Linked DNA regions of Homo sapiens. The protein of the gene in region 4 interacts with the protein of the main gene of each other region in a pairwise test. Each region holds a gene or a part of one and is shown on either strand. Other genes may lie near its edges.

Region 1 (7,435 bases), on a different chromosome or scaffold from region 4:
GGAGTAACTGTGATCACAGGCATGAGCCACTGCACCAGTTCACTTTGAATTTTCTGTCTCATGATGCTGCCCAGTCTGGTCTTGAACTCCTGGGCTCAAGCGATCCTCCCACCTCGGCCTCCCAAATTGCTGGGATTACAGGCATGAGCCACTGTGCCCGGCAAACGTCTCTCATAAAAAACTCCTTCTTTTTAACTCTTTAGCCTTTTCACAGCCAGATGTGGTTTTTTGTTTGTTTGTTTTGTTTTTTGTCTTTTTTTTGTTTTTGAGACGGAGTCTCGCTCTGTCGCCCAGGCTGGAGTGCAGTGGCGCGATCTCGGCTCACTGCAAGTTCCGCCTCCCGGGTTCACGCCATTCTCCTGCCTCAGCCTCCCGAGTAGCTGGGACTACAGGTGCCCGCCACCACATCCGGCTAGTTTTTTGTATTTTTAGTAGAGACGAGGTTTCACACCGTGTTAGCCAGGATGGTCTCGATCTCCTGACCTCGTGATCTGCCTGCCTCGGCCTCCCAAAGTGCTAGGATTACAGGTGTGAGCCACAGTGCCCGGCTCTTTTTCTTTTTTTTTTTTTTTTTGACAGAGTCTAGCTCTGTCACCAGTCTGGAGTGCAGTGGCGCAATCTCAGCTCACTGCAACTTCCGACTCCCTGGTCTAAGTGATTCTCCTGCCTCAGCCTCCCGAGTAGCTGGGATTACAGGCACGCACCACTGCGCCGTGCCCAGCTAATTGTTGTAATTTTAGTAGAGACGGGTTTCACCATGTTGGCCAGGCTGGTCTCGAACTCCTGACCTCGTGATTCGCCCGCCTCGGCCTCCCAAAGTGCTGAGATTACAGGCGTGAGCCACCGCAGCCGGCCCGCACTCAAGACATTCTTAAAAGATGCTCTCCACTCACTCTCTCAGTTGCTGATCTCCTGTAATCTGGCTTCTCTCCCCATGAGCCACTGAAGCTGCTCTTCCTGGTATCACCAACAATCCCTTTGCCAAGAAATCCCATGGATCCCTCTCAGGCTTTATCTGATTTGACTTCTGTGCAGCTTTACATGCCAGAGCCCTTCCTGGAACACTCACTCCCCCAGTCCTCTCCTTGGGGTGCTGCACCCTCTCTTCTAGCTGCTTGGTCACTCTCCTGCCCTCCTGGGCTCTAACGTTCTGGGCAGCCTGTCCTGTGGGGAGAGAGGAGCTTCCTCTTCTCACACTTCTGTATTGTGGCTACCTCAACACCTATCTCCGCCCCAGGATCTTCCTTGGAGCGCTAGTCCTACTGCACTTCTCCACTTCAATGTCTCCAGGTTCCCTTCCTGCACAGCCCCCTACTCCCACCGTGTTCTCTGATTTCTGTGGATGGAACCACCATCCATCTTGGTTCCAGAGCCCACATCCCTGTCTCGATTCTGCTTGACCTATTGGGTCCGTTCCATGTCCCGGGGACTCTCTCTTCCTGACACCACTGCAATGTGTCCACTTCTATCTTCTGCCACCACTTCAGCTCAGATCGGTAGCATCTGCTGCCTGTCCTGTGCATCTCATGGCATTATTCCTGCTGTCCTGCAGACCAGTGCGGTTTTGCTAGCTTAGGAACATGACTGTGTCACCCCTACAGTTCCGACAACCCTTCATTTCAAGCCCATCTGCCTTGCTGTGGTTACTCAGGCTCTTTGGACTGGGCCTGGCTTCCTGCCTCTCTTCTCCTCCCCTCTTGCCCCAGTGTACTCCTCAGCTTGGCCACCCTGAGCTGCTTTCCACTTTTCACACAAACCAAATCATCTTTTTCCTCTGCGCTGACTGCTCCTTCTTCCTCGGTGCCTGACTAGCCCTCACGCATCCTTCCGTGACTCAGCTTACACTCTTTTCTTCCAGAAACCTCTGCCTGGGCCCCAAGGTTGGGTGAGATAAGGCTCGATGCCCCTTATCAGTGCTCCTGTGACATATGCTACTTTCCCCAGCAGCAGGTGTTTGCTGGCACTGTCATTGCCCGTTAGCTGCTTCTGCTACAGTGTGAACTCTGCCAGGATGGAAATATGGCTGCTGGGTTCACAGCTGGATCCCCAGCACCAGACTGTGCCAAGAATAGAATATGTGCTTAAAAGATGGTCAGAGAATTCAGCAACGTTCCCTGAGGGTCATACAGTCTAGAAATACACACAAGACCCAGACTAGATGCACATATAGATAGCCCTGGAAAAATAAGAAAGGTTAAAACGGATAATAAGGCTATTTGGTGGCTACGACGAGTTTATTAGAGAGGGCAACCGGAGCCCCCAGCCCCACTCACGGACGTTCTCTCAAATCCACCTCTGAAGGTGCATGAGATAAAGGAGAGCTATTTACTGCACCTAGACGCCAGGCAATGAAAACGGGGTGAGGGTCGAGGGCAGGGATCTGAGGAGCCACATCAGGCCAGCCTTACCTTCATGTTGTCAGGGGGGTCTCCTTGGCCTGTAGTTGCACAAACAAATATCACCAGGGGCTCGTTAATCAGATTCACCTCAACAAAAAGACACACACACGTAAGACCTCCGGCTGTAAGGACCGGGCGTCCTTCCCAAAACTTGACCCCCTTCTCCTTTACTCAGGCTGACAGGGCAGAGGGATTTATGTGAGCAGCCAGACCGTCTTCTCTTTCAGGTTCCAACCTCCTCCAGGTGCTAAACTGAACTCCCCTTCCCAAACCTCCTTCCCTAAATCCGCCATAAGGGAAAGACCCGCTCTCAGAGAAAATGCGACGCCTTTTGGGTCGATGACCCCGCGAGGCGGGCACGCCAGGCCTGCTCGTCCCCCACGCCGAGGCCCTAGCGAGCCCTCACCACCGGGTAGGAGTCCAGGGCCTGCACCCGGCAGCCAAGCCGCCGGCGCCGGGCCTCGCGACCCAGTCTCTCCGACACATCCTGAGCCGTGCCTGTCTGGCTGCCGAAGAGCACCAGAAGCTGCGGGCTCGGCATCGGGGTGCGCCCGGTGGTCTGGTCTGAGACTAAAAACTAGAAGGCAGTTCCCGCCGGCCGGGTTGCAGGGACCGCTCCGCCTTCCGCCTTCCGCCGTCGACCGGAAGTGACGCACTAGGGACGCGCCCTGTGGGGGCATGGCGTCCGATCGAGGCGGGCGTTCACGGGCGGCCAGGGTTGAGTCCCGGGTCGGGGCCGGGGGATTGCCGGCGCATCAGGGCCGAGGGCTGGGGCTGGCGGGGCCGCTCGCTGCCTCTCGCTCGCAGCAGCGGCGGCAGGCGCGGGCGAGGGCCACGGGGAGAGGAGACGCAGCCCCGCGGGTGGCACGCTCGGCCGGGCCCCGGCCCGCGCTCAACGGGCGCGATGCTCTTCTCGCTCCGGGAGCTGGTGCAGTGGCTAGGCTTCGCCACCTTCGAGATCTTCGTGCACCTGCTGGCCCTGTTGGTGTTCTCTGTGCTGCTGGCACTGCGTGTGGATGGCCTGGTCCCGGGCCTCTCCTGGTGGAACGTGTTCGTGCCTTTCTTCGCCGCTGACGGGCTCAGCACCTACTTCACCACCATCGTGTCCGTGCGCCTCTTCCAGGATGGAGAGAAGCGGCTGGCGGTGCTCCGCCTTTTCTGGGTACTTACGGTCCTGAGTCTCAAGTTCGTCTTCGAGATGCTGTTGTGCCAGAAGCTGGCGGAGCAGACTCGGGAGCTCTGGTTCGGCCTCATTACGTCCCCGCTCTTCATTCTCCTGCAGCTGCTCATGATCCGCGCCTGTCGGGTCAACTAGCCTCACCGAGGTGCCGGAGAGGGAGCGCTGGACAACTAGAATGTTGACCTCGAGCCGAGGCCCTACTTGCAGCGCACCGGAGGAGAGGCTCTCTAGTCTGAAGGCACCGCCGGCTTGCGCCGAGCTGAGTGCCGGGTTTCCCTATTCCAATCCTGTTTGAAATGGTTTCTTCAGCAGGGCTTAAAAGAGCAGCCTTCATCCTGAAAATGTATTTCCTTTTGTTTAATGCTTTGAGTAGATAATCCTGAATTGAGGTCATGAGGAGGCCCCCCAGGCCAGACAGTCCTGAACCCCTCTGACACTTGGAAACTGAATATAAGTAAAATGTCCAGGTGGACTCTGAGTATTTCCTGTGGATCCTGGGAAAGTACTGTTGCACAAAGGCTGCAAAGCTGGACTCAGGAATGTCCTCCAACCAGCAGCGCTGACCTAAGAGCTCCCTGTGCCGTCTATCCAGACCAGACTTCGGTAGATGCCTTTGTTAGATCTATCACATGTAAACGAGCTTGTATCTCCTTCCCTGTGCCACGAGAGAGATTGGCTTTTTATTCCAGTCTAGGCAGAGACAGAAGAATGTTGAATAAGAGCACGATTAGAGTCCTGTCTGGTTATCTGTTGCCCAAGAAAAGAACTCTGCTGTCCAGGCACTGCTTGGCTTACTATCCCAGCAAAGACTGCAGTTTTGTGGACTTTTGACCACCTTGGGCTGGCACTCTTAGCACACCTGAGACAGATTTAAGCCTCCCTAAGAGACTGAAGAGAGGAACAGGTGTCAGATACTCATAGGCACTGAGATCTACAAATGGGAAGCTTGTGAGTGGCCCATCTTTGTTGGCCTACGAACTTTGGTTTGATGCCAGTCAGGTGCCACATGAGAACCTTTGCTGAGATGCAAATAAAGTAAGAGAATGTTTTCCTGAAATGAATAGTGGTTGCCTGTAACCCTCAAGGGTTAAATAGGATGAATATTGAGATACTCTCTGCTACGTGGTGTAGCTGGTTACAGAGCTGCGGTTTTAAATGGATTGAAACCTGTGGCTAGAGCTTAGTGGATGGTGGTGGTGGGAATCACTTGTTCTGGAGAATCCCTCCTTCCTGCTCTAGGAGGTGGGTAACTCAGGCACCCCCCCCCCCACCCTGTATGAAGACAACAATCTGGGCTCATGTTAAAGACCCATTGAATAGTTTGTGACCCCAGAGCCCATGACTTCTTGCCAGAGTGTGGTCTTTGTGGGCCTTGTTGGCACTCTGTAGAGCAGGGATCAGCAAACAATGTCCTAAGGCCTGTTTTTGTATGACCCTTGAGCTGAGGATGGTTTTTACACCCCTAAATGATTAAAAGCAAAAGCAGGCCAGGCGTGGTGGCTCACGCCTGTAATCCCAGCACTTTGGGAGGCCGAGGTGGGTGGATCACAAGATCAGGAGATCGAAACTATCCTGGCTAACACGGTGAAACCCTGTCTCTACTAAAAATACAAAAATTAGCCGGGCGTGGTGGCGGGTGCCTATAGTCCCAGCTACTTGGGAGGCTGAGGCAGGAGAATGGCGTGAACCCGGGAGGCGGAGCTTGCAGTGAGCCGAGACAACGCCACTGCACTCCAGCCTGGCCAACAGAGCGAGACTCTGTCTCAGAAAAAAACAAACAAACAAAAAAAAAAACAAAAGCAGAACTTGTGACAGAGAGTGGATATGACCCTCAGAGTCCAAGGTCTCTTAATTGGCACTCTTGGCCTTTGGGGCCAGAAGATTCTCTAGTGAGGATGCAGTCTGTTTCGCAGTGCTCCTGCCTCTCCTGGGTAGATGCCAGTAGCAGCCTTCACTTGTGACAAGCAGATGTTTATCCAGACATTGCTAAGGGCCCTGGGGAACAAAATTGTCCCTGGCAAAAACCAGTGGGCTAAAATATTTCCTGTCTGGGGCCAGATGCGGTGGCTCACGCTTGTAATCCCAGCACTTTGGGAGGCGGAGGCGGGCAGATCACGAGGTCAGGAGTTTGAGACCAGCCTGACCAACGTGGTGAAACCCCGTCTCTACTAAAAATACTAAAATTAGCTGGGCATGGTGGCGCATGCCTGTAATCCCAGCTACTCAGGAGGCTGAGGCAGGAGAATTGCTTGAACCTGGGAGGCAGAGATTGCAGTCAGCCGAGATAGCACCACTGCACTCCAGCGTGGGCGACAGAGCGAGACTCTGTCTCAAAAAAAAAAAAAAAAAAAAATTTCCTATCTGGCTCGTTACAGAACAGGTGTGCTGACCTCTGCTCTCATGCATCAGCCTGGCCAGCGGAGTGCGGTGTCAGCCTCTGCCTGGCGTGTATGCTTAGTTGTGTAAACCATGGAGGGGCTTGCGTTGGAGGCAGCTTATCTGGTTTGTTGCTACGACACTGTGTCCAGCCTGGGATTGGCATAACTTTTGTCAAAGCCAGATTCAAGCTGAACAGTGGGAGTGAGTTTCCTCGTAATGTTATTTATTTCTAGATTTTGTGTTTTGTGTGTTCCCCTGTTTTATTTTGGTAGTTCAGAATTGGGCAACCCTACTAGGGTAGAAGTGATGAACATCAGATGCTTCCTTTAGAAAGGTGATTTGAGGAGGGCCCTAAGGGAGGAGACACTTGGCTTCTGGAAAGCTGAAATGAAAGTTTATTCTGGCCAGGCCCAGTGGCTCACGCCTGTAATCCCAGCAGTTTGGGAGGCCAAGGCAGGCAGATCATGAGGCCAGGAGTTCGAGACCAGCCTGGCCAACATGGCGAAATCCCGTCTCTACTAAAAATACAAAAATTAGCCGGGCGTTGTGGTGGGCACCTGTAACCCCAGCTACTTGGGAGGCGAAGGCAGGAGAATCGCTTGAATCCTGGAGGCGGAGGTTGTAGTGAGCCGAGATCGTGCCACTGCACTCCAGCCTGGGTGACAAGAGCAAGACTCTATCTCAAAAAAAAAAGAAAAAGAAAAAGTTTATTTTCTCCAGCTTAATGGAGTGGCAGGAGAATAAGGCAAGCATTAAGCTAGCGGCTGCTGCAGACTGTCATGGGGCACAGAAGCTGAGAAGGGCATCCCCAAGTTAAAAAAAAAAAATCTGTTCTGCATCATTGCAGAGACCCAGGCGACCTTGGTGTGGGAAACAGCAGTGTCTACTGAGCAGGCTGCTGACTGCAGGGCAGGTGATGGAAAGAAGGTGATGTCCGTGCACTCCAATTCCCCTTCTCCCCGTGACTCCAAGCGATCTCCCTATTGTCTGCAGGCTTGAAAGGCTGTGGAAGCACTCTGAAGCCCTCCCTGGGGCAGAAGGGACTTGTCAGCCGGGAGGCTGTGCCCTCAGGGTCATGGTATCCGGAGCCTTGATGAGGGGACGTTCAACCGATGGGAGAGGAGTAACCTTAACGTGGCAGCAGGGTGGAATAATCAGACACAGGGGTCGGCCCTATGGGGCCCACCGTTACCCTGGCTTTTTTTTTTTTTTTTTGGCTCTGAATGCATTGGAGAGCTCTCCAAGCATGCAGGGCCCTGCCCTGGTGAACCTGCTTGCGTGTGGCGGGAGAGGCTGCTTCCTTTGTGCCTGCTCCTGCAGATGCTTTTTGGGGACCACGGATGGCAAGGTTGGGTTAAGAGGCTCCCACCTGGGCAGCCTATAAAAACTAGGGATTTCTGAGAAACTGGTTCGTTGGGGCTGCTCGGGGCTCCAGAATTGGCATTTCCAAGCCCCGCAGGCACCTGCCGGAGGTCGG
Region 2 (6,100 bases), on a different chromosome or scaffold from region 4:
CGGAGTTGGAGGCTTCAGCGAGCCACGATTATGTCATTTCACTCCAGCCTGGGCCACACAGCGAGACCTCATCTCTTTTTTTTTTTTTTGAGACAGAGTTTTGCTCTTGTTGCCCAGGCTGGAGTGCAATGGCCCGATCTTGGCTTACCACAACCTCCACCTCCTGGGTTCAAGTGATTCTCCTGCCTCAGCCTCCTGAGTAGCTGGGACTACAGGCACGCGCCACCACGCCCGGCTAATTTTTGTATTTTTAGTGTAGATGAGGTTTCCCCATGTTACTAAGGCTGGTCTCGAACTCTGAACCTCAGGTGATGCGCCCGCCTCAGCCTCCCAAAGTGTTGGGATTACAGGCTTGAGCCACTGCACCCGGCTTATTTATTATTATTTTTTATTTTTTTTGAGGCAGAGTGTCGCTCTGTAGCCCAGGCTGGAGTGCAGTGGTGCAATCTCGGCTCACTGCAAGCTCCGCCTCCCGGGTTCACGCCATTCTCCTGCCTCCGCCTGCCGAGTAGCTGGGACTACAGGCGCCCGCCACCACACCCGGCTAATTTTTTTTGTATTTTTTTAGTAGAGACGGGGTTTCATTGTGTTAGCCAAGATGGTCTCGATCTCCTGACCTTGTGATCCACCTGCCTCAGCCTCCCAAAGTGCTGGGATTACAGGCGTGAGCCACCGTGCCTGGCCAATTTTTGTATTTTTTAGTAGAGATGGGGTTTCACCATGTTGGCCAGGCTGGTGTAGAACTCCTGACCTCAGGTGATCTGCCCACCTCAGCCTCCCAAAGTACTGGGATTACAGCCATGAGCCACAGCGCCTGGCCTTTAATTTTTTTTTTCTTTTTTTTTTTTTTTGGGAAACGGATCTTGCTCTGTCACCCAGGCTGGAGTGCAGTGGTGCGATCTTGGCTCACTGCAATCTCTGCGTCCCAGGTTCAAGCGATTCTCCTGCTTTGGCTTCCCGAGTAGCTGGAATTACAGGCGTGCACCACCACACCCAGCTAATTTTTGTATTTTTAGTAGTGACAGGGTTTCACCATGTTGGCCAGGCTGCTCTCAAACTCCTGACCTCAGGCTGATCCGCCCGTCTCGGCCTCCCAAAGTGCTGGGATTACAGACGTGAGCCACCACGTCCAGCCTAATTTTTAAAAAATTATTATTGGCCAGGCACGGTGGCTCACACCTGTAATCCCAGCACTTTGGGAGGCCGAGGCGGGTGGATCATGAGGTCAGGAGTTCAAGACCAGCCTGGCCAACATGGTGAAACCCTGTCTCTACTAAAAATACAAAAAAATTAGCTGGGCATGGTGGCACGTGCCTGTAATCCCAGCTACTCCAGAGGCTGAGACAGAGAATTGCTTAAACCTGGAGGGGTGGAGGTTGCAGTGAGCCGAGATTGCGCCACTGCACTCCAGCCTGGGCGACGAGACTCCGTCTCAAAAAAAAAAAAAGAAAAAAAAATTATTACTGTCCGGGCACGATGGCTCATGCCTGTAATCCCAGCCTGTAATCTTAGCACTTTGGGAGGCCGAGTTGGGCGGATCACGAGGTCAGGAGATCGAGACCATCCTCGCTAACACGGTGAAACCCTGTCTCTACTAAAAATACAAAAAATTAGCTGGGGATGGTGGCGGGCGCCTGTAGTCCCAGCTACTCGGGAGGCTGAGGCAGGAGAATGGCGTGAACCCGGGAGGCAGAGCTGGCAGTGAGCTGAGATCACGCCAGTGCACTCTAGCCTGGGCGACAGAGCGAGACTCTTCTCAAAAAAAAAATTATTATTATTTCAAACAAGGATTAGACAGGAGGAAGGACTTCCAGTGGATCTCTAGTTTTTGTTTTTGTTTTTTTGTTGTTTTTTTTTTTGAGACAGAGTCTCACTGTGTTGCTCAGGCTAGAGTGCAGTGCTGCGATCCCAGCTTACTCCAACCTCTGCCTCCCAGCTTCAAGTGATTCTCCTGCCTCAGCCGCCCAGTTAGTTGGGACTCCAGGTGCCCGCCACCATGCCTGGCTAATTTTTTTTTTTGAGACCGTATCTTACTCTGTTGCCCAGGCTGGAGTGCAGTGGCATGATCTTGGCTCACTGCAACCTCCGCCTCCCAAGTTCAAGCGATTCTCCTGCCTTAGCCTCCCAAGTAGCTGGAATTACAGGGGTCTGCCACCATGCCAGACTAATTTTTATATTTTTAGTAGAGACAGGGTTTCACCATGTTGACCAGGCTGGTCTTGAACGCCTGACCTCAAGTGATCCACCCGTCTTGGCCTCCCAAAGTGCTGGGATTACAGGCATGAGCTACCACACCTGGCCCCTAAATTTTATTTTTAGAGATGAGGTTCGAGACCAGCCTGGCCAACATGGTGAAACTCCGTCTCTACTAAAAATACGAAAAGTAGCCGGGTCTGGTGGCATGTGTCTGTAATCCCAACTACTTGGGAGGCTGAGGCAGGAGAATCGCTTGAACCTGGGAGGCGGAGGTTGCTGTCAGCCAAGATCGTGCCACTGTACTCCAGCCTGGGTGGCAGAGTGAGACTCTGTCTCAAAAAAAATTTTTTTTAATTAAATAGGATATTTCCCTTATCAGAGTATAATTTTGCTCTTATTGGTATATCGAACCAGATGTGGGTCTCTGAGAGCACAGCAGCTGCCACTGTCTGGGCAGCTCCAATGTCCAGTGTGGGCCAAGCACGGACTTGGCCTAGGTTAATGTCACTTTCTTGTCTTCTGCCTCCCTTAGGGCCTTCCTGCTGTCCCTGGTGGCACCAGTGGCATTGATGGTGGCCAGGTGGGCAGAGCCTGGGACCCAGAGAAGTTAGCCCAGGAACTGGCAGCATCGCTCACCAGGTGTGTGCCTGGGTCCTGGGCTGTGCGGGGGGTGGGCAGGCAGCCTATGTGAGAGCCCCCGGGGGTGTCGTCTGCAGTAGAAGCTAAGGTGTACCCCGGTGTACAGGTGTGTTTACATGACAATACTGTGGGCAGGTGGGTAGGAGGAGACCTGGGAAACAGGATCGGCTGGGGCTGTGAGCCCCCTCTCTTCTCCTTCGCAACAGGACACTGGACCTGCAGGAGCAGCTGCAGTCTCTGCGCAGGGAGCTGGAACAGGTGGCTCAGAAGGGGCGAGCCAGACGGTCTCAGAGTGCCGAGCTGAACAGGGATTTATGCAAAGCCCACAGGTAGGACTGTTCTGCATCCCCCCAATCCCCCTGGCACCATCCCCCACCAGGATATCAGAAGTATCCCTGGCTGTCTCTGGGCCTTAGCATTCCCCACTGCCCCAAGATAGGCAGTAACGGTCAGGTGTGGTGGCTCACACCTGTAATCCCAGCATGTTGGGAGGCTGAGGCCAGCAGATCACTTGAGGTCAGGAGTTTGAGACCAGCCTGGCCAACGTGGTGAAACCCCATCTCTACTAAAAATACAAAAATTAGCTAGGCGTCTTTGCACGTGCCTGTAATTCCAGCTACTTGAGAGACAGGAGAATTGCTTAAACCCAGGAGGTGGAGGTTGTGGTGAGCAGAGATCACACCACTGCACTCCAGCTTGGGTGACAGAGCAAGACTCTGTCTAAAAAAAAAAAAAAAAAAACAACAGGCTGGGCCAGGCGCAGTGGCTCACGCCTGAAATCCCAGCACTTTGGGAGGCCAAGGTGGGCAGATCACCTGAGGTCGGGAGTTCGAGACCAGCCTGACCAACATGGAGAAACCCCATCTCTACTAAAAATACAAAATTAGCCAGGCGTGGTGGCGCATGCCTGTGATCCCAGCTACTCGGTAGGCTGAGGCAGGAGAATCGCTTGAACCCGGGAGGCAGAGGTTGCAGTGAGCCGAGATTGTGCCATTGCACTCCAGCCTGGGCAACAAGAGCGAAACCCCATCTCAAAAAACAACAACAAGAAAAAACAGGCTGGGCATGGTGGCTCACGCCTGTAATCCCAGCACTTTGGGAGGCTGAGGCAGGCGGATCACCTGAGGTCAGGAGTTCAAGACCAGTCTGGGCAACATGGTCAAACCCTGTCTCTATTAAAAAATACAAAAAAATTAGCTGGGCGTGGTGGTGGGCGCCTGTAATCCCAGCTACTTGGGAGGCTAAGGCAGGAGAATCACTTGAACCCTCGAGGCAGAGGTTGTAGTGAGGGGAGATCTTACCATTGCACTCCAGCCTGGGTGACAAGCGCGAAATTCTGTCTCAAACAACAACAACAACAACAACAAAAGACCAGCTAGCTGGGACCCTTGGAGACCCAATGTGAAAGAGCCCCCATTCTGGGAGTGGGAGTACACGGCCCTTGCCTTGGGTGGACTCGGGGGCTGTTTCCTGACCCAGCCACCCACCCCTTCCAGCGCCCTGGTCCTGGCCTTCCGAGGAGCCCACCGGAAGCAGGAAGAGCAACGCCGGAAGTTGGAGCAGCAGATGGCACTCATGGAGGCTCAGCAGGCCGAGGAGGTGGCGGTGCTCGAAGCCACTGCAAGGGCCCTGGGGAAGCCCAGGCCTCCCCTCCCGCCTCCCCAGCTTGGGGACACCTTTCTGTAGGCCCCTTACCCAGCCATGTCTGGACATGCCAGACAGCTGTGGCATGTCATAAACTGTCCTGGAGTGACATCATGTCATGTTGCATGATTTGGCATGTTGGGGCACATTTGGCGTGAGGGAAGCTGGTGCACATGGGTGTCCAGGGCCTGATGGGGTGTGGCCAGGCAATGAAGAAAGACTCAGGTGTCTTTGGCCTGGCACCAAGTGGAATGTGAACTTCATATCAGTGGGGTCAGGCCAGAAGCAACCTGGGCTATGGGACCAGGTCCCTGGGACTGACGCATTTCGGGGGTCCGTGAGGTTGCATAGCCACAGCTGAAGTTCCAACTGGCCTGTCTCCCGAAGCCCAGGGAGGGATTCATGGGGACTGGACAGAGCTTCTCCTGGCAGCCCCTTCCCAGGGAGATGCTGGGTTTGGCTGGCAGATTTTCCTGAAGGGGGCCGGGCTCAGTGGTGCACATCTGTAATCCCAGCATTTTGGGAGGCCAAGGTGGGTAGATCACTTGAGCCCAGGAGTTCAAGACCAGCCTGGGCAACATGGCAAAACCCCATTTCTACAAAAAAATACAAAAATTAGCCAGGCGTGGTGGCATGTGCCTATAAAGATATTTAGGAGGCTAAAGTGGGAGGGTAACTTGAGCTTGGGAAGTGGAGGTTGCAGTGAGCTGAGATCACGCCACTGCACTCCAGTCTGGGTCACAGAGTAAGACCTTGTCTCAAAAAAAAAAACAGGCCAGGCGTGGTGACTCATGCCTGTAATCCCAGCACTTTGGGAGGCTGAGGCGGGGAGGATCACCTGAGGTCAGGAGCTTGAGACCAGCTTGGCCAACATGGTGAAACCCCCGTCTCTACTAAAAATACAAAAATTGGCTGGGTGTTGTGGCACATGCCTGTAATCCCGGCTACTCGGGAGACTGAGGCAGGATAATTGCTTGAACCTGAGAGGCGGGGGTTGCAGTGAACCGAGATCGCGCCAACAACAAGATCGTGCCCGGGCAATAAGAGCAAAACTCTGTCTCTAAATAAATAAATAAAACACAAAACAAAACAAAAAGGAGGGAGACTGAAGCTGGAATGGTTCAGATTCAGGGTGTGGATGACGAGTTGCTACTAACTCAAAGCTAAGGTCAAGGGTTTCTGGACTCCATGTGGTCGAGCTTGCCTGTAATCCCAGTATCTCAGGAGGCCGAGGGAGGAGGACTGCTTGAGCCCAGGGGTTTAAGACCAGCCTAGGCAAAATAGGAGAGTCTGTCTCAAAAATAAATAAATAAAATAAGGTAAAGGGTTTCTGGGTGGGGGACAGGCATAGCAAAGGTAATAGTCTGGGACTCAGGGGGCGTTGTACTTCAAGAGAAACTCAGAATGAATGCCAATGGTGGCCAGTTCCAGCTTTCTCCTGGGGGCCCAGGAGCTGTGGGACGTGTCAGGTTAATAGCAGGCAATGAATTAGCATGTCATTTGCATAAGTCACATCTCCCTGCCCCTCCACACCAGGACTGGCTGAGTCTGGGAAAGGGGAGCTTGGAACGACCCAGCCAAGCTTGGATTAGTGGCCAGCTGTCCCCCTTCAGGGTGGCAG
Region 3 (7,025 bases), on a different chromosome or scaffold from region 4:
TGCATCCATCCATCCATGCATCCATCCATCCACCCACCCATCCATCCATCAACACATCCATGCATCCATCCATGTATCCATCCATCCATCCATCTATGCATCCTTCCATGTATCCATCCATCCATGGATCCATCCATCCATCCACCCACCCACCCACCCATCCATCCATCCACCCATTCATCCATCCATGCATGCATCCATCCATCCATCCATCCATCCATCCATCCATGCATCCATCCATCCACCCACCCACCCACCCACCCACCCACCCACGCATCCACCCATCCATGCATCCATCCATCCCCTTGCTACACCATGCAATCAATACTCATTTACTAATATGGGACTGTGGGGAATATAAAACTGAGTACTAAATATATCTGGGCAGCATCTAACAGTACTCGTTCTGATAACTAATATTTATTGAACAGTACCAGAAATATATTTTAAAAAATGTTGAGTAGGGCCCAGATCTGCTTTCAAGAAGAAGCTGCCCAGATCTGCTGAGCAAGAACAGTGCTTCCGGGAACACCTGAGCTAAGGGCTCTCTGGCAGTTTCTTGTCCAGGGAAACCTTCATAGAAATGACATTACGCTTGAGCCATGGATGATGATAAGGATTCTGCCAGGTGGGAAGTGTTCAAGGCTTCCTGGGCAGAGGAGGTAGAGGGGTGGCGAGGCATGGGGCATGGGAACCGGTGGCATCTGGCTGCAAAGTGGGGCCCGAGGGATTGTGATTGCAGGGTTCCTGTGGGGTTGGCCAGATCTGGCCTTGGAAGAAAGGTCTGGCGAGACTTTGCATGGCTTCCTATGGAGTAAGAAAAGAAGAGCCCAGAAGGGCCGGGTGTGTGTCTGCTCATGTGTGTGTAAGTTTGCGTGTTTGTGTGTGTGTTTGTGTGTGTGAGTTTGTGAGTTTGTGTAAATGTGTTTGTGTGAGTTTGTGTTTGAGTCTGAGTCTGTGTATTTGTGTGTCTGTGTGAGTTTGTGTGTGTGAGTCTGTGTGTCTGTGTGTGTGTCTGTCTGTGTGTGAGTTTGCGTGTCTGTGTGAGTCTGTGTATGTGTTTGTGTTTGTCCGTGTGTGTGTGAGTCTGTGTTTTTATGTGTGTGAGAGTGTGTGTGTGTACATGTGTGCTTAGAGAGCCATTGGCATGGTCAGCATGTGGTTAGAGGCTGCCCTTCTGGGAAGTTCTGATTTTCTGGCTCCTCACCCCCGATTCTGTGGCTACATCCAGGTATTAAACTCCGATGGCTTTTCACATCCTTTGCCCCTGGGTCACACGAGATTTCCCAAGGGGGTGTAGTGGGGATTGAATAGGAGACAGCGGAGGGTGAGAGAAGGAAGGGGAAAGGAAGCAGCAGCAGTGGGCAGGCTTATCACTGCCCTGGGGTTTGAAGCCGGTTACCAGCACTCATTTTCCAAAACCAGCCTGCCCAGATGGCTGTCTGCCCACCTCAGCGGAAAAAGGCGTTGTGGCATCAGTTCCTGCAGCGGCGCTACTGGGTAAGGCTGGGCGAGGGGCGAGGTGGGAGGGCTGATGTGGGCGGTGGGTGGGAGCGTTTCCTCTCGGTGGCAGCTGTATGTGTGTGTGTATGTGTACGCACGTGTGTGCCTCACAGGCTGACCACAGACCAAAACTTTTCTGCTGAGAGTTCCAGTTTTAACAGGGCCACCAGATGTGCTTCCTGCCAGCTAGAGCTCTCGGCTAAAACCCTCCTCTCCACTCTGCTCTTCACCCCATGGAGTCCAGAAAGTTCTGCATGTGAACGTGAGGGACACTGAGGACCAGTCCTGGGTAGCCAAGGAGGTCCAGCACTCGCAATTCCCTGGTGGCAGAAGGTGGGGCTGTCCTCCAGGGCTCAGAGAAGTCATGTCCCTGGCATCTGTGTGTAGCTCAGGCCTGCCCATCAGCCTGGGGTCGACGCCAGGGCTGTGCAAAGGCTGAGGGCCCCTGGGATGGGAAGTCCTACAGGAGATGTTTGTGGGCACCATCTAAGGAAGAGATGAGGTCACAACAGAACACACTTGCCTGCCGGGTTCAATGGAACTCTTGCTAACTCTGTGTGTTTCCCATGACATTCATTCGCCCTCTCTTCCTTCGGAACAGAATAGCCTCATTCCAACACAGCAGCCCGGGTCTAAGGCTCCATTCCCTGGGCTCCCTCACAGCTGCGTGGGGCAGGAGGCACAGTGGCCAGGGTTTGCAAGTCCAAGTGCAGTGGGTGACCTTGGGGATATCTGCCTAGAGGAAGGTGGCCTTCAGTACCCCCTGACTTCTCCTGCTGGCTGAGAGGATGGGGTGGTAAGGCACGAGCAGCCATTGTGGGCAGCAGGTGGCACATGCCGCCCTTTCTCTGCACCTGGTACTTCACCAACCTGCGCCGACATGTCAATCAGCCTTGGGAGTGACAATCTGCTCCCTTCATCTGTCTTCAGGAAATCCAGCAGGCATCCTAAGAAAAGAGAAGTTGCAAGTGCCCTTCTGCAAAGTGACCCGCCCCTGGTGGTGCCAGCCTCTCTCTGGTGTGAGTGGCTCCCCATGGGCGCGGGAAGTGGGAGTTTGCACCCTCAGATCTCTCGGTGCATCAGGAAGGATCTACCTACTGCTGCCGAGTGCCTTCCACTTTACAAAATGCCAGTCTCAGCACCCCGGGAGGCAGCCAATATACCAGCAGTTGCCCAGAAGTTAGGTTTCAGCCAGGTGCAGGGACCTGTCTGAAGTCACCCAGCCGGGAGCTGGGAGTGGGACCCCAGTTCTGACTCGAAGTTTCATGCCCCTTCTTGTCTTTCCCCCCGTGTTGGCCTCGCTCCCTTGATCCCTGCTGGCAGACACCCTCTGCCTCTGAGGACCAGGCATCAGCAAGAAAGCACCAGAATGGAGAGAACTGTCCCCCAGGTTTGGTGCAGGGGACAAATGCAGCTCCCCCTGGAATCAGAAAGCTGGGAGGGATGGATGCTTGCCCTAGGGGCAGGCTAGAGGCACCCCCAGCACAGCCTCCGACCGGGGGCCCCTTGGTGACAGTTGTTAGGGAGCTATATCAACATGGGCATGTTAGGATCCTATAGGAGCAGTGTGCGGTCAGGGTCATAGGAGGGTGAGAAAGTGGCATGAGAACTTGGCCACGCCGTGGACCTCAGAGGCCATCAAGCCCAACCTCTCTGGCCATCCTTGTAAAATATTCACACAGTTGTAAATGGTTGCATGACCAGGAGGCAGGAGACCTGGATCTAGTACTGTCCCTGCATGCCTGGCCTGGTGTTCGTCTGACTTTGCAATGCTCTGTCCCTCCCAGCAGGCATCAAAGAGTGCTAGGCACAGAAGATGCACTCCAGAAATGCTGTCTGAACTGCTCCTGGGCTGAGAACATGGCTCTGTCAGAACCACTTCACCCTCCTGTTTCTCACCCTCCCTCTGTCCCTCCCCCTCCCTCCATCCCTCCCTGTCCCCACACCGTGCCATGCCCTAGATCTGCAGGACCCCCTGGCCTGGTGAACCCACCGCAGCGGACCCTCCTCCTCCTGCTAAGCCCGGCCCTCCCGCCTCGCTCTGAGGATGCGGCTCTGCGGGGGGCACCACCTCTGGCCATGTACTCGGTGACAATGTAGATGGGCTCCTTGGTGACCACTGCGTAGAGTCGGACCAGCCGCTCGTGCTGCAGAGCCTTCATCACGTTGGCCTCACCCAGAAAGGCTTCTGGAGACATGGTTCCCTCCTTCAGCGTCTTAATGGCCACCTTCATGTTGTTTTTGTAGTAACCTGAGCCCGGGGGAGTGAAGAAGCCAATCAGAAGACAGAGAGCTTGCTCGGAGGTGATCCCTTAACCAAAATCGGGGTAAGTGCCCAGGTGCCACCCCATTCCAGGTGCCAGAGCTGGAACATGCAGTTCCGGAGGCCATGGTTGTGTGGTGCCTACCTTGCGTTCCAGGTCCCTTCTATATGGGGCCTCAGGCAGTGGAGGAATGTACCCTGCCTGGGGGGCATTTCACCTATTTGCCCCACACCCTGGGCCTGTGTCCTTCTGTCCTGCACGGAACCTGTGTCCTTCCCCCACCCCTCCCCTACATAATGAGTCTCTTCTATCACACAATAACTCCTTGGTGGAAATAAGCACACAGCCTGGGGTACACTGGGCAGGAGGATGACGCATGGGGGTCTCCTTCCCTCCTTCTGAAGCCCCATGGCGATCCTGTCCCACTCCTTAAACTATCTGTATCTCCACACTCTCCCTGTACTCCATGAAGTCCCCTGAAGGGCAAAAGACAACTCTACTTGCTTTTCTAGAGGACATGGGCCTTGGCAGGGACCTGGGTACAGCTCCTGCCAAAAGCACCGTGGGCATCAGCCCCAGGTAAGGGAGCACTCATGGACCAGCCCCAGGTAAGGGAGGACTCATGGACCAATCCAGGGATAAAACGGAACACGAGTTTTATATCCTGGTGGGCGGGGGGGGGAAGGGGGCAGGTGTCAGCAGCGATGGAAATGTGAGGACACCAGGCCTGGAGCTTCAGTGACTTGGCCAAAGTCCCACGGCTGCCCTCGGTGTGCACTCAGGCTCTGGAACATCATGGCTCATCACGTTTAACCTCCTGTTTCCATCTGGGTGATGAAAAGCTAAGGGGAGTTAACGCGCCGCTGCAGCTCATTGTCAAAGCCAGCTTCAGGCAGAGAACGAAGGAGGGAGCGACTTCGGGGCTGGGTGAGCTGGATTCTGTTCCTGCTCTGCCACCACCATAAGCGGTCCCAGCTGTTACAACGCGGCTCTGCACCTCCACTTCCTCCTCTGTAAAATGAGTGTCCTCGCCTCTGTCCTCGCTCCCTCTCAAGACTTCTGGGGGAGGGATGACACGCTATGAAAATGCTGAACCTGGACTCAGGATGCGGCGCAGGTGGAATGGGGGGAGAAATGCTCCCACGTGTGCACACACTCACCCATCCAGACTTCGCCGAATTGTCCAGACCCGAGTTTCCTGACCAGCCTGAGAGACTGCCGGGGGATCTCCCATTCATCCTGGGCCCAGGGATTCTGCGGGGCCGGGCGCACACAGGGCAGGGTCAGCCTCTGGCATAGACCATCCCCCTTCTCTGCATTAGGGAAGAAAAGACAGGGCTGGGGGTTACCAGAGCAGCCAGGCTCTACCTTGGGAGCTGTATCATTCCTAGCTGGCCCTCCACTCCCCAGCCACCCCACCCCCTGCATGGGTGTGTGCACACGCCTGCACATGCACACACACTCAACTCTTTCTCTTCGTTTGCGCAAAGCAGGGCATGCTATCTCTAAAATCGACCTGCTCACTCTAAGACTGAAAATGCTTGCTACTCTCTAAGGGGTTCCCTGCTGAGCCAGGAGAGGGAATTAGGGCCACCAATTCCCGGTGCTCAGAGTTGCTACCTCCTTAGGCCTAACTTTGGGATAATCTTTCCATCCCCCAAGGTGGCACCAATGACTCACACAATTGGGAATCTTAGCGAGAGATCCAGGGGCTCTTGGCACAAGTCCCTGCCCCCATTGCACGCCCCCTCTTACTAGAATAGTGCTGCACCAGGGCCTGGAGCGAGGGGAAGGTGATCCGGGGGGAGATGTAGTAGCCCCCTTCATCCAGGCAGCGGATCTTATAGTGCTTGATCAGCTCCCCCTGGGTGGTGACATCCTTCACAGACAGGGAGAAGGCACCTGGAGGGTTCATGAAGACACACACGAGAAGTAAGGCACAAAGACAAAAAACGGGACTGGGATTTGGGCCTCATTTTAAAGCTTTGAAAAAAGTTCCCCAATTCTGTTCTTCATTATCAGCACTCCCTCCACAAGTTTCCTTTCCCTGCATCTCAACCTCCATGCTTTTGGAAGCCTCCCCTGTAAGTTCCATCTGACTCTGACCTTGGCATCCCCCCACTATCCTGCAAAACTCAGCCAGGGAATCACAGAGCCCTGCGGCAGGCAGCACAGTTTCTCAGCAATCATGTAGGTCCCCACTTGGGCATCTGGTCACTCGGGGACCCTTTGTCATGGACTATTGAGAAATCTAGTCTCGTTGGAGTGACTAGGGGCTTTATTTTCTGGCTAAAGAGGGTATCTCTTACTCCTACAAGCAGATAGCCATTCACAGCTGCAAGTACCCATGTCCATGGCGGACACCGTAATAAGCTATGCCCAGGGGCTCTGTTCAAAGTCATTTGCTGCCTGTTACATACACCTGTTATTTTGTCTTCTAGGTTAATGTTTTCCCGCAGGCAAGTGGTAGCAGATGTCAAGGGTTAAGGACAATTTAGGAGGTAAGAATTTCCAGGTAAGAAACGCTTTTCCATGAACTTGATGTTTTTATAAAATGCGTCTGTCCAGCTACTTGGGTACCATGACCTTACCCCGCCCCTTACCCATTATTTGGGAGATGAGGACGCTGGGGCCCAGCAGAGTTCGCGGCAGGCTGGGGGGCTCCCGGTTCCCCGAGTCCGCGCCTACCTCGAGCAGTACCACGCCTCCCCGCCAGGGGTCAGGCACGGACCCCTCGTTCTCGTTGTGGACGCTTGGTTTTCCGCGGTCCTGTTTGACTTAAGGCTCTTTCCTCTCCTGTCAGTTCCCCTGCCTCAACCCCCTTCCATCCTCCAGTTTCCCTCAGCCAATGTGCCTCTCTCATCACCTACTTGCAAAAGGACACCCAGAGGCGTACGCCATGCTGTTGCCACAGCCCCTCCACACCCCCACCCCAGCCTCAGCCCAGAGGCTGCAAACTGTCTCCCCGACCCTGCCCGGGTGCAGCTGTGCCCCCAGTCTCTAAGGAACCCGAGCCTGGCCTTAGGGAGTTCATTCATCAAGGGCTTTTCTCTCCATTTTGTAGGCTGCACTTGTGTCGGGTGCCTCGGGCGATGAGCCCAGGAGCCCGCTCTCCACGCAGTGACGCTTCCCAAGCTGGTGCTTTAGACCCCTCACTTGCCTGGCTGCTCTGAGGCCCCGTCCCTGATGGCTTCTGACAATTTGGTGTCCTTTGTAAAGACGACCTCAGATCCTATCAGCTTCAGTTTCACAAAACCT
Region 4 (7,252 bases):
CAACTCTTGGCATGAGACCTGGCACACAGTAAGTGCTCACTAAAAGTTGGGGGTGTGAAGGGGCTGGTGGTGACGATGACAGCAGTAATACCAGGACATCAGGCGGGGCGAGAGATTGGGCCATGGAGAGGGGCTCACACAGCAGGTATATCAGCCAGGGTCCTGCCAGGAAAAAGAAGGCATTCAAATTCAGGAGCTTGAGGGGAGTTTAATAAAGGGACTATTTACAATACTGAGGGTGGGGTTTAGGAAAAACAAGAGGGAGACTACAGCGCCTTGGGGGCTGGAACCTGTGAGAAGCCTTCCCTGACTCCTAGGTTTGAAGAGACAAGAGGGAACAATGACCATAACCTGGAAAGGCACTTGTATGGAGAGAGTTGGCTGCCAGGCAGAGTCCAGGAAAGTGTGCCTCTCTCCCAGAGCCCCCACACTTGGCCTTCTCTTTTCCTGACTCTTGCCCCTTCCCCCATATCTCCCTATCACTCTTTCTCCATTGCTTTTGGGCAGCTGAGTTGGATGAGGTGGGAAATGTAGGCAGTGTGATTTTATAGCAAATGGCAGCTCATAGCTGTGTGATCTTGGGCAAAATGTTAACCCTCTCTGAGCTTTGGTTCCCGTCCTTATCCAGTGGGAGAATCAGGACTGCTCTGAGGGCCGAATGAGACCATGAAGGTAAAGCTCTTAACGCGGACAGTGAAGTCCCCCAGACGTGCTTGCTTTTTTCCCTGCTAACCAACTTTGGACTTGGTGAGTTCTCCCCCACTGGAATGGGCCAGAGAAGTGAGAAATGGCCATGGGGTGAAGTCTGCATGTCTCCACCAGCGCTTGAGCCTTCACACCCACCCAGACCAGATATCATCCCAGGCCCACTTGCCCTCTTCTCTATCCCCTCTCTGTTCCCGGCTTCCAGGCCCACGCCCATGGCCGCACCTTTCTCAGGTAGCCCTTCAACAGAAATGTCCCCTTTCCTACCTAAATCCAATGTGTTCTCAGGGTCCTGCTCAAGGCCCTTCATCCCGGAGGCCTTCCTCGACCCCTTTATCTCCTGCTCTGAACGTGTGTGCAGTCCTCCTGGTCCACAGCAACACCTCCTGTGTGTGTGCTGCTTCTGGAGCTGCAAGTTCACTCCTGGTATGTAAGAAACATGAGGCAGGGGCGTGGGACCAGGGCAAGTCCCTGCCCCTCCTTTGATTATTTTGACTGTTGTCTACTGAAGCATTTCCTTTAGAGGGTCTCTATGCTCCCACTGCCACGCACCCTCGGCCCCAGTGGTGTAGACAGCAGGTCTTCACTTGTTGGCTGAAGGATGGAAAACTCTGAGAGGGCTCCCCGCTCTGAATCCACCGGCTGCTGGCCAGGACCTTCGAGGGCTGCTCTGACCTCATATAAGTTATGAGGCTCAGCCTCAGGAGTTTCTGCAGAGAGATTGGAGAGCTGGCTTTGCCCTGTGCTTCCACAAGGGCTCTAACTGGGCCCCTTGAGGCCAGTTCACACCCCACCCCTTAAGGTGCTGAGCTGGGTTTAAACTGAAGTCACTGCCACCCAGAGCTGCACTAGAGAGAACTTGCCAAGCCCAAGGTTGGTTAGCAGGGAAAAGCGAGCATGCCTGGAGCTCATAACCATCCGTGTTAAGAGCTTTACCTGCGTGGTCTCATTCAGCCCACAGAGCAGCCCTGATTGCCTCACTGAATAAGGATGGGAACCAAAGCTCAGAAAGGGTTAACATTTTGCCCAAGATCACACAGCTTTGAGCTGCCATTTGCTACAAAATCACACTGCCTACATTTCCCACCTCATCCAACTCAGCTGCCCAAATGTGGGGGTGGGACAGGACTCACAGGGAAGGAAAGGCCAAGTCAGGAGGCGGGGGCGTCTCTGGAAGACAGACACACTCCCCTGAGTCTCATTGCATGGGTAGTTTGTCCTCACAGGCTGCTTCCTCAGACTCCAGGCCCCAGACATGGCATGAGGAAGCAGGGCTGACTATGAGCCACATCTGTCTACCCAGATTCTTCTTGCTGTCCAGCCAGCAAGATCCCTCCTTCCCCAAGAGCCAGCCCCAGATCCAGCCTCAGGGGCTTGCCCCTCCCAGAACTATGGGCTCTCTAGTGGCCACATTTAACCCCTGGCCCCTCCTAGTGATATAGCTCCAAGTGCTGTCTCCTGTGGGTAGGGGGTGGGCACAGTTATCTATTAGCTGTGAGATTAATCATTCCCTGCTCTCCCTCACCCTGGAATCTCCCTGAATCATCACAGCTTGGGGCTGGCCCCTGGACATTTGAGGAGCAAGCCCACTTCTCTGGGCTGGGGATATAGAGCTCACCTTGCTGGAGGAAGGGGAGGAGAAGGTAGAGCAGCTGGGCTCATGCTGCTAAGGCCTTCTCACAGGCAAGGAGGAAGCAGCTCTCGGGGGAGGTTAGGACAGGCACAGGAGCTGGTGTCTCAGGGGTCCTTGGTCTGGGGAGGTGAACAACCAGCAAGTCAGGAGGTAGAAGGGCCCTACTGGTGGCTGCTGAGTGCACAGGGCCCACTTGCACCCTGGAGCCAGACGGCCTGGAACCAGTGCCCAATCGCATTATCTTCCCAGGCAGGAAGATGGCAGGGGCGTGGCTGCAGAGGCAGAAAGCTCAGATGCCAAGGAGGGTAGCTGGGTGAGAGCCCCGAGCCCCGGGGACTGAGGCAGAGCTGCAGGGCAGGGCAAGGACCACAGTGAGGCAGGCAAGGTGGCCAGGGCACAAAATGTGAGGCTCTGTGTCGGGAGCGGAGCGCTCGCACAGCCCTGAGAATGAGTGCTTCATTAAAGTTTGCTTCCTAGGCACCTGGCTTGCATCTTCAGTCCTGCTGCTAGAGAAGGAGCAATGGCTCCCCACCCCCTGAACCTGCTGCCCTAGCCTCCTAGACTAAGCAGGCCTGAGAGGTTGGGGGAGATGCGCTCTAGAGAGACTGGGGGAGCAGCCACTGAGACCTTTCCACACATACACACTGTGCTGGGACATGTTGGCCCACAAGGGAGATAAAGCACAGTGCTCACAGCCAGGCCATTCCTGGTCAGGCCCCCAGCCCCAGAGCCCCAGGAGTACCACTCTTGGCAGGCCTAGACGGGGAGAAAATTAGGAGTGGGGTTCCTGACTACCATCCCCCACCAGTGTCTGGGTGACCTTGGCTGGTCCTTTCAGTTCTAATCAAAAGCAAAGCCTCAGTTTTTCTGTCTCTAAACTGGGGAGAACCACATCCTTGCTGCTGCTCTCTCTGGAGTGGGGGTAGAGAGGGAGGCTGGGAGGCCTCTGCAAAGCCGGAGTCTCCTGCCTCCTGGCTGCCAGGCTGGTCCTGCTCTTCGGCCAGATTAAAAGAATCTCCAACTTGGGGCCCAAAATAGGTAGAAATGAGGCAGGCCACAGGGGCCCCCCAAACACTTCTGAACACTGCCCAGTACCCCAAATCCCTCCTCTTCTAGCCCAGGATTTCTGATCATTCTTCGAAGCCCAGTTCAGACCTCACCTCTCTATAGAGCAACCCCCCACCCCAGGCCAAGGACTAGTCTCTCTTCATTCTGCCATCTCACCTCACCAAAAGCACTTAGGACCCTGCCTGGCGTGCAGCAAATGCTCTTTGTCTTTGTAATAATTTCTTGCAGTGCTCAGAACTGAACCATAATCTTTGGTTCGTACTCTAGTGCCATCACTGACCCATCATGGCTTTCTTTAATTGTTTAATTATAATTTATTTTCAATAATGTAATGAATTTCCATTAACTGACCACCCAATCTAAAAACCCAAAAGTTTAGAATGTATGCTCTTACCCTCTTCTCTCCCCGATCTTCCCACCCACCCTCCAAGAAGAAACCATCCTCTTGAAGTTTGTGTTTATTATTATCAAATAAATGGAAGACTATAGGTACCCAAAGAGGCACGATGGCTGGTAGATTCTTCAACAGAAGTAGCTGTTTTACCGATCAAGCTGCAACACTCTTGAGAGCAGTGTCTGCTTCCTCTTTTGCTGCAGCTTGAGCAGCATGGGGCTGGCCACACCACAGGGTTGGTGGAGACTACTTGAGGCACCAAGAGCAGGAAGGGTGGGGCCTGAGTGCCAGGCGGCAGGTGGAACACAGCTCCAGGAATAGGGAAAAGGGCTTCGCGTTCTAGCTCACTGCACCTGGACAGGTGCCTGTGTGACTTCGGCCCTGCCCTGTGACATCACACAGTGTTGCCCAGGTGACCCAGCTAGGTGGAAGAGCTTATTGTTTTCCAGGCCTGGGCAGAGACAGGGCCCCCCTGCCCCATCTCTCCACCGTCCTAGGTGTGCCAAGAGTCAATTGCCTCATTGCTGACCCTGTCCAGCTGGCCATGGCCCTCAACCCCCAAGGCCCTTCCACCCACAGACCATCTCGCTGCTGAGAGATCCAGGACCTGCTCCCACCTGGCCACCCTCCCCCTCCCCCCACATCCAGGCCCCAGGGCTGGTGTGTGGCACCCCTGAGACCACATTGACCTCCATACTGTCTACTACCCATAAGGACTCCAAGACGCCCAGGCCAGCTGTCTGGGCAGGACTGATTCCTGATCACCCACTGATACCAAGTACTCATCCCCAAGATTGTTAAACAAGGCCAGACACTCCTGGCCTCAAGAGGATGGGACTGAAAAACAAAAAGGTAAGGCCAGGGGCATGGGCCATGCACCTGCATGAATCCGTCCCTCCTTCAAAGTCCTTCCTTCAAAGTTTTGTTTGCTCCTTAATCATGACAAAAGCTTCCCTTCCCTGGGTCTCAGTTTTCACAGCTGTGAAATGGGGAGTGAGGTGGTCTCTGTGGCTCTCCCAGGTTAGCTGCCCTATACTCTTGGGCCACACGGGAACTGGAATGCAGTGTACTTGCAGGTGTTGTCAATGCTGACCACCCTTACCTGGTTGTTTCTGCACTCTTATTGCTGGGGTCACACAGTCTGAGAGCCCACTGAGATGGTTCATTACCCCTGTCCAAGATCTCCCAGGAGATTCCCAGGCTGCTGGCTTGGCAGCCCTGATGCCCCCATTGCCCCCATGCTCTCCAATCCCTGGCCCTGATTTTCTGGGGCCTAGGCCCCTGTCCTGGAACACAGATGCTTGGGTCTCTGAAGAGAAGGGATTTTTGTGTGTTTTGTTGATCACCGTATCCCCAGCACTCAGAACAGTGCCTGGCACATAGTGGGTGCTTAATAAAAAGCTGTGGCCCAGCAGCAGGGCTCTGTCAGGAAGGGACTAGAATCTCAGTGTGATGAGATGTAAACAGTTGAATGTAAGGGACCCCTTACCTTCCTCTCACTAGCAAGGCTGAGCCCCTGCCCTAGATGGTGTTAACCCACAGGGATAGCAGAAGGAGCTGAGACCAAAGGCACACAGATACTTGCAAATGGGGGATACCCTCTTTGTAGTTACACTCAGGTTGAATAAGCCAAATAGCTGGGGGTGCCCAGGCCCTAGTGTGATTTCCACTTCATTACTCTTGATTTTGATGTCTCTGGTTCCTGATGTTCTCTGCCCACAGCTGCCCCCCACCCCCTGCAGACTCTGCCCTCCCCATTAAGCCTCTTTCTGTAATGCCACACACTCAGAACCGGTCACCAGGTTGACCTGGCACCCTAAGCTGCCAGCTGGTCCCCACCTGCCCCACAGAGCTGGATTTGGGGATCTGGGGAGTGTGCGTGGGAGTCCTGAGGAGGAGCCAAGGTTGCTTTGATTAGTAGCTTTGAGAAGCGCTTTTGATAGCTGGGTAGAATCGCCTATAAGGATGCTCATCATGGCCGGGGGTGGTGGCTCACGCCTGTAATCCCAGCACTTGGCGAGGCCGAGGCAGGAGTTTGAGACCAGCCTGGCCAACATGGTGAAACCCCATCTCTACTAAAAATACAAAAATTAGCTGGGTGTGTTGGTGCACGTCTGTAATCCCAGTTACTCAGGATGCTGAGGCAGGAGAATCGCTTGAACCTGGGAGGCAGATGTTGCAGTGAGCCGAGATCACGCCACTGCCCTCCAGCCTGGGCAACAGTGTGAGATTCTGCCTCAAAAATAAAAGGACGTTGGCCAGGCCTGGTGTCTCACTCCTGTAATCCCAGCACTTTGGGAGGCCAAGGCAGAAGTTCGAGACCAGTCTGGCCAACATGGTGAAACCCCGTCTGTACTAAAAATACAAAAATTAACCAGGCGTGGTAGCGGGCACCTGTAATCCCAGCTACTCGGGAGGCTGAGACAGGAGAATTGCTTGAACCCAGGAGGCGGAGGTTGCAGTGAGCCGAGATAGCACCACAGCACTCCAGCCTGAGCAACAAAGAGCAAAACTCCATCTCAAAAAAAAAAAAAAAAAGGATGCTCATCATGTATATATAATACATATTTGTGTTTCTTCTTTTGTGAATCCCCAGTTCATGTTTTTTAAATTGGATAATGTTTATAGGTTTCAGTGCTCTTTGTATACTAGGGATATTAATCCTTTTTTAAATATGCAGCAAACATTTTCTCCTTTTTTTCTTTTCTTTGTATTGCAGGGCATTTTGGACCATTATAGAAGTTAGTATAGATTTTTAAAATGTAATCAAACCTATCCCTTTTTAATGATTTCTGACTTTTGTGTCATCTTTTGGAATGCTTCTCTGCTCCAAAGAACATAATTCCTCTTGCTGCCACCAATGGATACTCAGATTATGAGTTCAGGGGGGCATCCACTGTGGAGCAGAGAAGGGATCCACATCCAAGGAAGCATGGTTAGAGCACAGCAGAGACAGCAAGAGTGTGGGGTCAGACAGACCCAGCTTCCAGTTCCAGCCCTGGCCTCACTAGCTAAGCTGTGTGCTTTCATACAAGAGGTTTACTTTCTCTGAGTGTGCTTCCTCACCTGTGAAAGAGCTTTCCCCTGGCCGCCATAACTCTCAGGCAAGTTTAGATGTTGAAACTAGAAGGAACATGGGGGACCATTTTTAACTGAAAGTCCTTGTGAAACTGCTGGGAAATAGCCCCACTGCAGTCAAGTAACTTGCCCAAATGACAGATCCGGGCAGCCAGGCACCCTGCCTCCCAGCCCAGCCCCGCTCCAGCTAGTGTGACTTTTCAGACACACGGCCCTTCTAGAGGGCAGAACTGGGCTCAGCTCCTCAGGCCTCCCAGGCTGCTGGAGGATAGGGAGGAGTGGGTGGAAGAGTTTGTCTCCTTCCATCTCTCTCCCCACCAGAACCAAGTTAAGCACCCCCCAACCCACCCGCGGGAGCTGAATTCAAGGACCAT

Evidence for each region.
Region 1: the proteins of CCDC33 (region 4) and NDOR1 interact in a two-hybrid assay, tested with the Homo sapiens proteins (2 studies listed by BioGRID and IntAct).
Region 2: the proteins of CCDC33 (region 4) and USHBP1 interact in a two-hybrid assay, tested with the Homo sapiens proteins (2 studies listed by BioGRID and IntAct).
Region 3: the proteins of CCDC33 (region 4) and BLK interact in a two-hybrid assay, tested with the Homo sapiens proteins (3 studies listed by BioGRID and IntAct).

What each region holds. Positions count from the first base shown.
Region 1 is NC_000009.12:137,201,283-137,208,717, reverse strand, and holds the start of NDOR1 (NADPH-dependent diflavin oxidoreductase 1), read right to left. Parts: upstream 3,019-7,435; 5' UTR 2,941-3,018; coding exon 2,806-2,940; intron 2,487-2,805; coding exon 2,409-2,486; intron 1-2,408. Other genes in the region: TMEM203 (transmembrane protein 203), read left to right, coding at 3,304-3,714. UniProt on the Homo sapiens protein: NADPH-dependent reductase which is a central component of the cytosolic iron-sulfur (Fe-S) protein assembly (CIA) machinery.
Region 2 is NC_000019.10:17,248,646-17,254,745, reverse strand, and holds the end of USHBP1 (harmonin-binding protein USHBP1), read left to right. Parts: intron 1-2,728; coding exon 2,729-2,835; intron 2,836-3,041; coding exon 3,042-3,164; intron 3,165-4,331; coding exon 4,332-4,521; 3' UTR 4,522-5,575; downstream 5,576-6,100.
Region 3 is NC_000008.11:11,553,387-11,560,411, reverse strand, and holds part of BLK (tyrosine-protein kinase Blk), read right to left. Parts: exon of another isoform or gene 6,832-7,025; intron 6,283-6,831; exon of another isoform or gene 6,209-6,282; intron 5,670-6,208; coding exon 5,523-5,669; intron 5,081-5,522; coding exon 4,928-5,080; intron 4,827-4,927; coding exon of another isoform or gene 4,561-4,826; exon of another isoform or gene 4,550-4,560; intron 4,347-4,549; exon of another isoform or gene 3,755-4,346; coding exon 3,575-3,754; coding exon of another isoform or gene 3,497-3,574; intron 2,523-3,496; exon of another isoform or gene 2,451-2,522; coding exon 2,374-2,450; exon of another isoform or gene 2,147-2,373; intron 1-2,146. UniProt on the Homo sapiens protein: Non-receptor tyrosine kinase involved in B-lymphocyte development, differentiation and signaling. B-cell receptor (BCR) signaling requires a tight regulation of several protein tyrosine kinases and phosphatases, and associated coreceptors.
Region 4 is NC_000015.10:74,232,089-74,239,340, forward strand, and holds the start of CCDC33 (coiled-coil domain-containing protein 33), read left to right. Parts: upstream 1-4,237; 5' UTR 4,238-4,631; coding exon 4,632-4,652; intron 4,653-7,252.